3 linked regions of the Homo sapiens genome follow. The protein of the gene in region 2 interacts with the protein of the main gene of each other region in a biochemical or structural test. Each region holds a gene or a part of one and is shown on either strand. Other genes may lie near its edges.

Region 1 (3,500 bases), on a different chromosome or scaffold from region 2:
ATTACACTAGCATAAGTAGACTTTGGAATGGAAGCCAGCTTTTCTGATTCTTAGTCTAGTTTTGGATATGAACAATCTAGTAAAGGAGGGTTGTTTTTGAGTCTCTTAAGTGTGATTTAAGAAAATAATCTGTTTGGTTTGAGAGCTTAACCACATTCATTCAATTTCTTTGTTCCTGTTTTTAAGAACCGACTTTCCTTTAACTGTCATCTCCCTCATGCCCTTGCTTCTCTTCTTTACATTTAAATAAGCTCTGGAACAATCTGTTAAAACATAAGTCAGAAAATCAGAGTAGGTACCTAAAAGTTAAGTAGGGCTGGTCTTAAAATGTGGCATTCTTCTCCTAGTTGGAAAGCTTTGCTTTTCTTTTTATAGATATCATTTAATTTTAAAATTTTTACTGTAAATTGACAGATTATAGTTGTATATGAAAGCATTGCTTTTCAATTGTAAATTAATTCTAAAGACTCCAGAATTTGTGTTGGGTCTTTTCCCATTTAGCATTGTTAAACCTCCCATTTTCACAAATAACTTCGTACAACCGATATTAGCATATGCTTTACTGAATTTGATAAGGGTTTTATGGTCTATTTACATATTAAGCATCTTGTTAAAGAAGATGTCTTAGATCATGCAGTTTGTGCCCAATAACATGAATTTTACTCATAAAATTCCCAGCTGGCTGGGTGCAGTGGCTCACACCTGTAATTCCAGGACTTTGGGAGGCCGAGGCAGGTGGATCATGAGGTCAGGAGTTTGAGACCAGCCTGGCCAACATAGTGAAACTCTGTCTCTACTAAAAATACAAAAATTAGCTGGGTGTGGTGGCATGCACCTGTAGTCCCAGCTACTCAGGAGGCTGAGGTGGGAGAATCGCTTGATCCCAGGAGGCAGAGGTTGCAGTGAGCCGAGACCATGCCATTGCACTCCAGCCTGGATGACGCAGTGAGACTCTGTCTCAAAAAAAAACTTCCCAGCAAATAATCTGCCAGCTTTTTCTTGGACACTTTGAGTACTTTGAGGGAACCGTTATTTCTCTCAAATGGGCTTGTTTATAACAAGGCTCATCTTTTCTAGGACTCTGAAAGGAAGAAAGGTCATGGATCTAGGATATTTTATTTCTAGATGAAAAGGAAATGGTCTATGAAGAAGTAGTTTCTTAGGAATCAGATTGAATGTTGAGGTAGACCACTGTCTGAAAAGTTTCAAACTTGAACAGGTTCATTTTGTGTAGCTAGAGGACTCTGCTCCTGTGACACCTCTAAACCTTCTCTGGCTCTTTATCCAGGCTGCTGGGGTAGAGCAGAAATCTCAGAACACATCCTTTGTCTTTTTCCAGGAATCATTTAGCTCATGCAAGGACTGGTTGGCAAGATTGGTTATATAAGGATGATGGATGGACTAGGGGACGATTAAGTCTTAGCAAGGAAACACTGCCTTAGCTTAAGAGTTGTCCTGTCCCATTTTAACTCTCTCCTTGCACACTAACAGTGTTGTATTTTTTTGTTTTTAGGTTTTTGACAACTATGCAGTCACAGTTATGATTGGTGGAGAACCATATACTCTTGGACTTTTTGATACTGCAGGTGAAAACTTAATGTCTTTTATACTGTTTTGATCTTTAACAGTTGCTAGTTGTCTGTCTCTTGTGGACATTTTGAGAAACTAGCACATGAGCAAAGTACTTGCCTTTTGTTATTAGTTAGCAGGATTGAATATAATGATTGTCGATGCTTGACCAAGGAGCAGTCCCAGACCTGGGTCGGCAAATAGGAGTTTGGAGTACCCTGGGTGAACAGTGTAGTAGATGAAGTAGAGTGAGACTAGAGTGCATCATACAAGCTCCAAATTGAACTAAAATCCTGATGCGTGCACCTTGCAGAGAACTGGGGACTGCATTAGTGGTTGGGGAGGGACTAAGGGAATGAATTCATAGGAATCATGCCCACTGATTCTCTCCCTTCACCCCTACCTGCTCCTTTTTAAAGCCTAGAGTTTCCTAAATATGCCTAAGGTTATAAGGTCATAAGCCATTTACAGTATTTATTATTATTACTCTCTTGATATTTGAAGGCATATTCAATTTATGTGTCTAATAACATGTTTAGTTTCTTACGATAGATAGCTTATTTTAAACTGTATCTGAAAATATTTTGAGAGTGAACTATTATCTGCTCACAGTATTGACATTTGTCAGCTATCCAAATTGTAAGAACAAATTACTTTCTTCCTTAAATGTACCTAATTCCTCAGTGCTATTTCTTGTTTTCAAGAGTGGCTGCACATCTTAATTTCTGACTTTTCTCTATGTGCCGTCTTATTATCAGCTCAGTTAGCCAGAGGAAAATCTCAGAAAGATATCCTTTAGAGTATCTTTAGAATGTAGGAATTCTAAACTTTGTGCTTTGAGTTACTGTTACTGTTTGCAAGTTAACATGTTGCTTCCATGGAATGTGGTGTTACACTGTGTACCACGAGGAACTATTTGGATTTAATTGAGAACGTGAAATGGAGAGACAGTAAAGATTAGAGAAATTTTTAATACATTAAAATCATAAAAGTAATGGTATATTAAATTTGGAATATAGAGAAAACAATGACCCATAATGTCATGATAAATGAGGGGTTTTCTTCTGTGTTCATTTGTGTCCAAAGGCACAGAGAAAATTTTTATTTTTTTTTTTTGTTGAGATGGAGTTTTGCTGTTGTTGCCCAGGCTGGAGTGCAATGGTGCAATCTCGGCTCACCGCAACCTCCGCCTCCCAGGTTCAAGCGATTCTTCTGCCTCAGCCTTCTGAGTAGCTGGGATTACAGGCATGCGCCACCATACCCGGCTAATTTTTTTGTATTTTAGTAGAGGTAGGGTTTCTCCATGTTGGTCAGGCTGGTCTCGAACTTCTGACCTCAGGTGATCCGCCCGCCTTGGCCTCCCAAAGTGCTGGGATTACAGGTGTGAACCACTGCGCCTGGCGAGAAAAGATAATTTATGGCTACTTGTGGTTGAAAATTAGTATTTTCAGATTTCAAAGTTTATTATTTATAAGCCTTTACATTTTCTGGCGAGTACTTTTGAAAGCTTTTTTGATGCGTAGTGCAATAAAAATCATTTTAAGGCCAGGCGCGGTGGCTCACGCCTGTAATTGCAGCACTTTGGGAGGCTGAGACAGGCAGTTCACCTGAGGTCAGGAGTTTGAGACCAGCCTGGCCAGTATGGTGAAACCCCATCTCTACTAAAAATACAAAAATTAGCCCAGTGTAGTGGTGTATGCCTGTTAAGTCCCAGCTACTTGGGAGGCTGAGACAGGAAAATTGCTTGAACCCAGGGGGCGGAGGTTGCAGTGAGCCGAGATTCTGCCACTGCCCTCCAGCCTGGCTGACAGAGTGAGACTCCGTCTTTAAAAAAAAAAAAATCGTTTTAAGTGTTCAGTGTGATGCATTTTGCTGACCCTCCACCATAATAAAATGTGTAACATTTTTATCACCCCTCAAATTTTCTGTGG
Region 2 (3,725 bases):
TTGCCTTCTGGTCCCTGAGGCTGTGGGAGCAGGAGGCGGGGTCAGAAGCGCTCAGAGGTAGCTCCGCACCTCACCCTCTGGTCCCTGGGGCTGTGGGAGCAGAAGGCGTCAGAGGTAGCCCCGCCCACTCCAGCCCTGCCCCTCACCTTCTGGTCCCTGGGTCTGCAGAAACAGGAGGCGGGGTCAGAAGCGCTTAGAGGTAGCCCCACCCATCCTGCCCCACCCCTCACCCTCTGGTCCTTAGGTCTGTGGGAGCAGGAGGTGGGGTCAAAGGCGCTCAGAGGTAGCCCCGCCCACTCCAGCCCCGCCCTTCACCCTGGGGTCCCTGGGTCTGTGGGAGCAGGAGAAGGGGTCAAAGGCTCTCAGAGGTAGCCCCGCCCACCCATCACCACCCCCTCACCCGTGTGTCCCTGGGCCTCTGGGAGCAGGAGGCGGGATCAGAGGCGCTCAGAGGTAGAACCGCCCACTCTGGCCCTGCCCCTCACCCGCGGGTCCCCTGGGCTGCCAGGGCTCAGGCCCGGCTGCATCTCCAACTCCTCCTCGGGCTCGTTCTCGGCCTCGTCCTCCCAGGCCGTCTCGCCCGTCAGCGGGTTGTAGAAGAACACCCTGCGGCTCTCCTCATCCCAGTACTGGCCCCACTCGGTCTCAAGGCTCACGTGGCTGTCCACCGAGGCAGGGGAGGTGGCTGGGCTGGCGGCACCCTCGGCAGCCTCAAAGGGCGACTCCCAGGTGGTAACTCCCGTGTCTGGGTTGTAGTAGTAGGGGCGCCCGGTGCCCGCGTCCGTGTGCGTCTCCCACACCGGGCTGGGAAGGGGGGCTGCAGCGGCGCCCGGTGAAGTGGCCCGGGGCTGCCTCTCTATGTTCGCGTACACGGGCTCCGGTGGGTCGTCCACCTGCGGGAGGAGAAAGGAGGAATTTTGTGTTTTCAGAAACCTTCCAAAATGGTAACAGAGGTCCCCTCTGGGCAGTGCGATTATAGGGGTTTATTTGTTTTCGCTTTATTTTCTTTAAACTTTTCTGCAGCCTCAAAATTTTGTACAACAAAGCATTTTAAAAATCACGTAAGTTCTTCTGCTCACTGTGACACCATCACTAAGCCGTAAACTCCTTGAAAGGGGAAGTGCCTGTTAGAAGTGGCCTCTTCTTGAGCTTTAGCCCCTTGGGCGACCTTCAGGAAGTCACACTACCTCTCTGCCTCAGTTTCCTGGGTGTAAAATGTCTGCTCTGTCCATTCCGGAAACTGTAGTGAAGAGTGAATGAGGAAATGCTCTTGAAAGTACTTTGTAAAGTATTTAGTGCCCCAGACGGGTGGGTCAATTACATTAATTATATTTATCAATAATAATAAAACATCGATAACCCAGTTCTCACAACTGTGCACTCACAGAGGCAAGTCAGAGGTTGGGCAGGAACTGAGAAGTGGTCTGGGGCGTGCCCCTGTTTATGGTGCCCATTCAGGGCCCTGCTGCATTCTTTTTTTTGAGATGGGGTCTAGCTCTGTCACCCAGGCTGGAGTGCAGTGGCGCAATCTTGGCTCACTGCAACCACCACCTCCTGGATTCAAGCTGCATTCTTACAGCTCCACTGAGAGCTCCCACCCCACCCCACTCTCAGCCCAGAAAGCTCTGGGATTGGAATCAGCACCCTGTCTGGATTTGGGGACTGAACTTTCCAAGGTGAAGTTTGCAGGTGTCAGAACCAATTCCAGACAAGAGAGGGAGACAGGACAGCCAGATGGGCTGGAGAATGGAGGGGCAAAGAGAGGTGAATTGTTTTACTCCACCCCAAAGGAGAGTGAGGGCAGCTGGGGGTTCAATCACATAGAACATAAACCTAGCCATGCGTAAGCCTCCCGGAACAGAGGCTCTCCTGATTCACACCTCAGAGCTCCCTGCTGGCTGCAGGGCAAAGTCTAAGCCCTTAACCAGGCACAAGAGACCGTCCCTCACCGGCCTGTGCTTCCACTATTATTTCCTGCCACTCCTTGCCCCTTGCCTTGAACTTTAAGCTCCAGTAGCACCAGTTGCTAGAGGTCCCCACCGTCCCTGCTGTGTTTCCTCCAGGCCTAGGCTCATCTGCAGCCTGCCCAGGCCCATCTCCACCCCTTTTTTTGCCTGGCTGACTCCAATTCCTTCTTCAGGATTCAGCTGAGGTGCCAGGTTCCAGCCTTTTCCTGAGATTCCCCCCATCCCCGTGCCCCCACATTCAGCCCAGCACCCTTGGCCCCACAGAGGGACAGATGACTACATTCTCAAACCCCAGGCAGCAGCATGGCATACGGAGATTACTACTATTTTCTTTTCTTTTCTTTTTCTTTTTCTTTTTTTTCTTTTTTTTTTTTTGAGATGGAGTCTCGCTCTGTCGTCCAGACTGGAGTGGAATGGTGTGATCTCGGCTCACTGCAACCTCCGCCTCCTGGGTTCAAGCGATTCTCATGCCTCAGCCTCCCAAGTAGCTGGCATTGCAGGCACGCACCACCACGCCTGGCTAATTTTTGTATTTTAGTAGAGATGGGGTTTTGCCCTGTTGGCCAGGCTGGTCTTGAACTCCTGACCTCAGGTGATCCGCCCACCAGGGCCTCCCAAAGTGCTGGGATTACAGGTGTGAGCCACCGCACCTGGCCAATTACTACTATTTTCTAAGCATACACAATACTTCAGGGGAAAGCAGATTTCCACATTTCAATTTTGTGTTTTCGGAAACTTTCCAAAATGCTAACAGAGGTCCCTTCTGAGCACTGTGATTATAGGGGTTTGTTTTTGTTTTGTTTTCTTTGAACTTTCCTGCAGCCTCAAAATTTTGTACTACAAAACTTTTAAAAATTCACAGAAGTTCCTCTGCTGACTGTGACACCATCACTAAGCTGTAAACTCCTCGAAAGAGGAAGCACCTGTTCAGGGTGGTCTCTCCCTGAGCCTTAGGCAGATGCCAAAAAAAAAAAAAAATTCATTTTTCACCAAACTGATGCCAAAAAAGCAAACCAAACCAAAACAATGAAAAGAAGAAGGAAAAGAAGAACATTTGTTTACCCAACAAAGATTCACCTGCTCTGTGCCAGGCACTGTTTGAGGCACGGGGAATACAGCAGGGAAGAAAGGGACACAAATCCTTCCCTGGCAGAGCTGGCACTCAAGTGCACCTGTGTGTAAATGGTGGGGGTGATGAGTAAATGGACAGCATGTCAGTGCTGATCACTGCTAAGCAAGAAATGAAAACACTGTCAATGAAGAGGATGTTACAGTTTTAGACAGGGTGCCAGTCCCCAGGCGCCTGGGGGACAGGGAGAGCTGGGGATCCCAGCCCATCAGTTCTTCTCTCCTCTCCCCTTCCTCCAGGCTGCTGTGTGGCTGAGAGGGGACCCTCCACCCCACTTGTCCTTTCTCTACCCCCACCATAGCTCTGATGTGGCATCCTGTAGTCCAACCACAACAGGCCTCTCACCGGCCCCCAACAGAAAAGGCATCCTCCCACCTCGAAGCGTTTGCTCCAGCCATTCCCTCAGCCTGGAATTCCCTTCTCTGGTTCTCTGCCTACCCAAATCCTGCTCTCTCACGGTGCTCAGCTGACAAGCCTCTCCAGGGAGAGGTCAAACCTGCTGGCACTCTGCTCACTGCTCTGTTGAGGCCCAATGGCGTTCTGCCTTGGTGGGCAGCCAGTTGTCCAACCATCTGCCCACCTCCTCTGCCCCAAAAGGCAGGATTTTCTTGAGAGCAAGACTAAGGATA
Region 3 (3,725 bases), on a different chromosome or scaffold from region 2:
CCTGGCTAATTTTTGTATTCTTAGTTGAGACAGGTTTCACCATCTTGGCCAGGCTGGTCTGGAACTCCTGACCTCAGGTGATCCACCTGCCTCGGCCTCCCAAAGTGATGGGATTACAGGCGTCAGCCACCATGCCCGGCCTGATTTTGAAAAAGAATAGGGACTGTGTGCAGTTACATATAAATTCTTATTTTTGAACTCTTGTGTGTTCAGCTGGCTTGTATCAACTACACCAGGGTTAGCCTTGATTCTGGAAGGGTGGATTCAGACTTCAGCTCAGTTGTACATAGTGTCTTCAGCCTAAGTGAGAAACTTTATGCACTATCTTAATTTTTTGAAGCTTCTAGTGGTAATAATTGCTGGCTTTTTTTTTTTTTTTTTGGTAGAAACAGAGTCTTGCTCTGTCGCCAGGCTGGAGTGCAGTGGCACGAAATCAGCTCACTGCAACCTCTGCCTCCCAGGTTCAAGCAATTCTCCTGCCTCAGCCTCCTGAGTAGCTGAGATTACAGGCGTGTGCCACCACACCCAGCTAATTTCTTTTGTATTTTAGTAGAGACGGGGTTTCACTGTGCTGCCCAGGCTGGTCTTGAACTCCTAAGGTCAGACAGTCCGCCCACCTTGCCCTCCTAAAGTGCTAGGATTACAGGCATGAGCCACCGTGCCTGGCTTATGGCTAGCTTTCTTTACATTGATTGTGAAGTCAGATATTGGTAGTAGAACATCATAATTTTAGATTGGGTTTTGTGTTTATTTAGCACTGCACTACTCTAGTGGTGTATTTTTCTGGACAGATTTTATCTGCATAGTTAACGCAGTTATATATAAGGCCTACCGTTACAGAATCCCCATACCTTGTTTGTCAGTGTAAATCGAGGACCTTCATGCGAGGTCTTTAATTTATTCAATAAGTAGGAATATATATTTGACAGTTACTAAATTCTACTGCCTTGTCCTTAAGATCTACATACTTTTTTTTGTTTTTTGAGTCAGAGAGTCTCGCTCTGTTGCTCAGGCTGGAGTGCAGTGATGCGATCTCAGCTCACTGCAACCTCTACCCCGTGGCCTCAAGCGATACTTCTGCCTCAGCCTCCTGAGTAGCTGGGATTACAGGCGCCTGCCACCACACTCAGCTAATTTTTTGTATTTTTAATAGAGATGCAGTTTCGCTGTGTTGGTCAGTCTGGTCTCGAACTCCTGGCCTGAAGTGATCCACCCGCCTTGGCCTCTTGCTGGGATTACAGGGAAGAGCCACTGCGCCTGGCCAAGATCTACTCACTTTTAGACAGCAATATATGCTCTGTATTTTGGTTTGCAATTGTAATTGTCATTGGAAGAGTTTGGCTTTTCTGTCCTGAGATCAACGTGTCTTTAAAAGAAGGCAGTGCAGAAAGTTGTTATTTTTTGAGCTTCTTGGATCTTTTATTTTTTTAACGTGAGGAAATTCCTAGCGTTTCTAGATTTGTTGATTGTGCTTTTAAGTTTTGGTTTATAGATTTCAGGAAGTAACACTAAAGTTTACCCTACTCTCCTCAAAAAGTAAGTAAAAAGTTCTCTTGGCTGGGCGTGGTGGCTCACGCCTGTAACCCCAGCACTTTGGGAGGCCGATGGGGTGGATCTCCTGAGGTCAGGAATTCGAGACCAGTCTGGCCAACATGGCAAAACCCTGTCTCTACTGAAAATACAACAACAAAAAAAAATTAGCTGGATGTGGTGGTGCTTACGTGTAGTCCCAGCTACTTGGGAGGCTGAGGCAGGAGAATTGTTCGAACCCAGCAGGCAGAGGTTGTGGTAAGCCAGGATTGCACCATTGGGCTCCAGCCTGGAAGACAGAGCCAAGACTCCGTCTTAAAGTTCTCTTAATGGAAAAATGAAGAACATAATAGCAACATAAGTTATTTGCTTTCATTGTGGTTATTTCTACAGGACAGGGCAGGGGAAGCACAGATAGGTTAAAAAAAATTGTAGCATCATGAGCTAGGGGGAAATCCAATGTAGAAATGGCATGAACTTTCTTCCAGCCGACTCATGTTCGTTTCCTAGAGTGATGACATTGCTCGATGATTGAAAAGAGGTTGAACTGAGCAGTTAATTATATAAAGTTAGAAATTCCAAAGAAGTAGTAACTACCAGAAATTCTCCAGCAGTATCAGTCAAGACTTGTGGCCAAATACGGCTTCCATTCTTCATGAGGGAAAGGCCATGGAAAGGCTGTCACATTGCCCAGTGCAGATGTTGACTTGGTTTGTGGAAGCGCAGCGTGGACAAGGAATGAATATACACTAATAGGAGTGGAATAACCTTTTTCTTTTACCTATTTGAATAAATTAAGTAAAAGTTTTAATCAGAAGACTTAAAGAGGAGTCGATTTTATCTTTTGATTGCACTAAGCTTAAATATAAGGTTGCACTTTAAGAATTCTGTAGTTTAATAATCATATTCTTATAAGACATAGATTTGTAACAAATAGTGATTGGTAATAAAATTTCAGTCAGTATCAGATTATGCCAGTACCTTGAATTTCTTCCCGGTTGAGCCTTTCTCAGCTAAAGATGTCATTCAGGAAAGGAAGTTTAGAGGATTTTAGACACAGCTGGTTGCCTTTATATTAGTAGTTTTGTTCCTCATATACATAGAGACTTAGGACAGAATAGTAAAAGAAGTGATAATGACATTTTATCATAACAGTCAAAACCTTCATAGCAGCTTATCCTTGACACTGAGTGGCAACTATTGTTAAGGTTTTTACACAACCTTTATCTTTTTTTTTTTTTTTTTTTTTTTTTTTTTTTTTTTGAGACGGAGTTTTGCTCTTGTTGCCCAGGCTGGAGTGCAATGGCGCAATCTCGGCTCACTGCAACTTCCGCCTCCCGGGTTCAAGCGACTCTCCTGCTTCAGCCTCCCGAGTAGCTGGGATTACAGGCATGCACGCCCGGCTAATTTTGTATTTTTAGTAGAGAGGGGTTTCTCCATGTTGGTCAGGCTCTTCTCGAATTCCTGACCTCAGGTGATCCGCCCGCCTTGGCCTCCCAAAGTGCTGGGATTACATGTGTGAGCCACCGAGCCCAGCCAACCTTTATCATTTTTAAAAAGGTCCCTTAGAGCCTTAGGCTCCACTTTCTTCCTCAGCTGCCACATCCAAACCATGGGTAAGCGATGCTTGATCTGCCTCCAAGTTCAAGCAGTCCAGGAAACAGCCCACTTATGTTCACTGTCCAGTCCCCATTCTTGGTCCAGGCCACCATGGATGGCTCCTGGACTGTAGCAACAGCTTCCATGTGTGTCTGCCTTGACTGAGTCCCTGGCGTCCTCAGGCTTCCTGCCACACTGCAGTTGGAGGCTTCTTCTAAAATCCAGTGCTTTCTGGGCAATTTAAAACCTGTGACTTTCCAAGTAGGATCTAGTCCCCATGTCCTTAACAAGAAGAGGTAACGTATTTCCCTATGCCACTGCCCACTTATTTTTTTATTGTTGAGATGGGATCGTGCTTTGTCACCTAGGCTGGGTGGAGTGGTGTGATCACAGCTCACTGCTGCCCTGAATTCCTGGGCTGAAGGGATCCTCTTGCTTCAGCCTCCTGAGTAGCTGGGACTACAGGCAAGAGCCACCACTTATTTTTGAATTTTTTGTGGAAACAAGGTCTCCCTATGTTGCCCAGGCTGGTCTTGAACTCCTGGGCTCAGCGATCCTCCCACCTCAGGCCCCTGTGCTGGGATTATAGCCTCCTG

What was found.
Region 1: of the proteins of ARHGAP27 (region 2) and CDC42, one has a biochemical effect on the other in vitro, tested with the Homo sapiens proteins (one study listed by BioGRID).
Region 3: of the proteins of ARHGAP27 (region 2) and RAC1, one has a biochemical effect on the other in vitro, tested with the Homo sapiens proteins (one study listed by BioGRID).

What each region holds. Positions count from the first base shown.
Region 1 is NC_000001.11:22,080,209-22,083,708, forward strand, and holds part of CDC42 (cell division control protein 42 homolog isoform 1 precursor), read left to right. Parts: intron 1-1,513; coding exon 1,514-1,586; intron 1,587-3,500. UniProt on the Homo sapiens protein: Plasma membrane-associated small GTPase which cycles between an active GTP-bound and an inactive GDP-bound state. In active state binds to a variety of effector proteins to regulate cellular responses. Involved in epithelial cell polarization processes.
Region 2 is NC_000017.11:45,405,191-45,408,915, forward strand, and holds part of ARHGAP27 (rho GTPase-activating protein 27), read right to left. Parts: exon of another isoform or gene 3,045-3,725; intron 894-3,044; coding exon 486-893; exon of another isoform or gene 401-485; intron 163-400; exon of another isoform or gene 75-162; intron 1-74. UniProt on the Homo sapiens protein: Rho GTPase-activating protein which may be involved in clathrin-mediated endocytosis. GTPase activators for the Rho-type GTPases act by converting them to an inactive GDP-bound state. Has activity toward CDC42 and RAC1.
Region 3 is NC_000007.14:6,381,027-6,384,751, forward strand, and holds part of RAC1 (ras-related C3 botulinum toxin substrate 1), read left to right. Parts: intron 1-3,725. UniProt on the Homo sapiens protein: Plasma membrane-associated small GTPase which cycles between active GTP-bound and inactive GDP-bound states.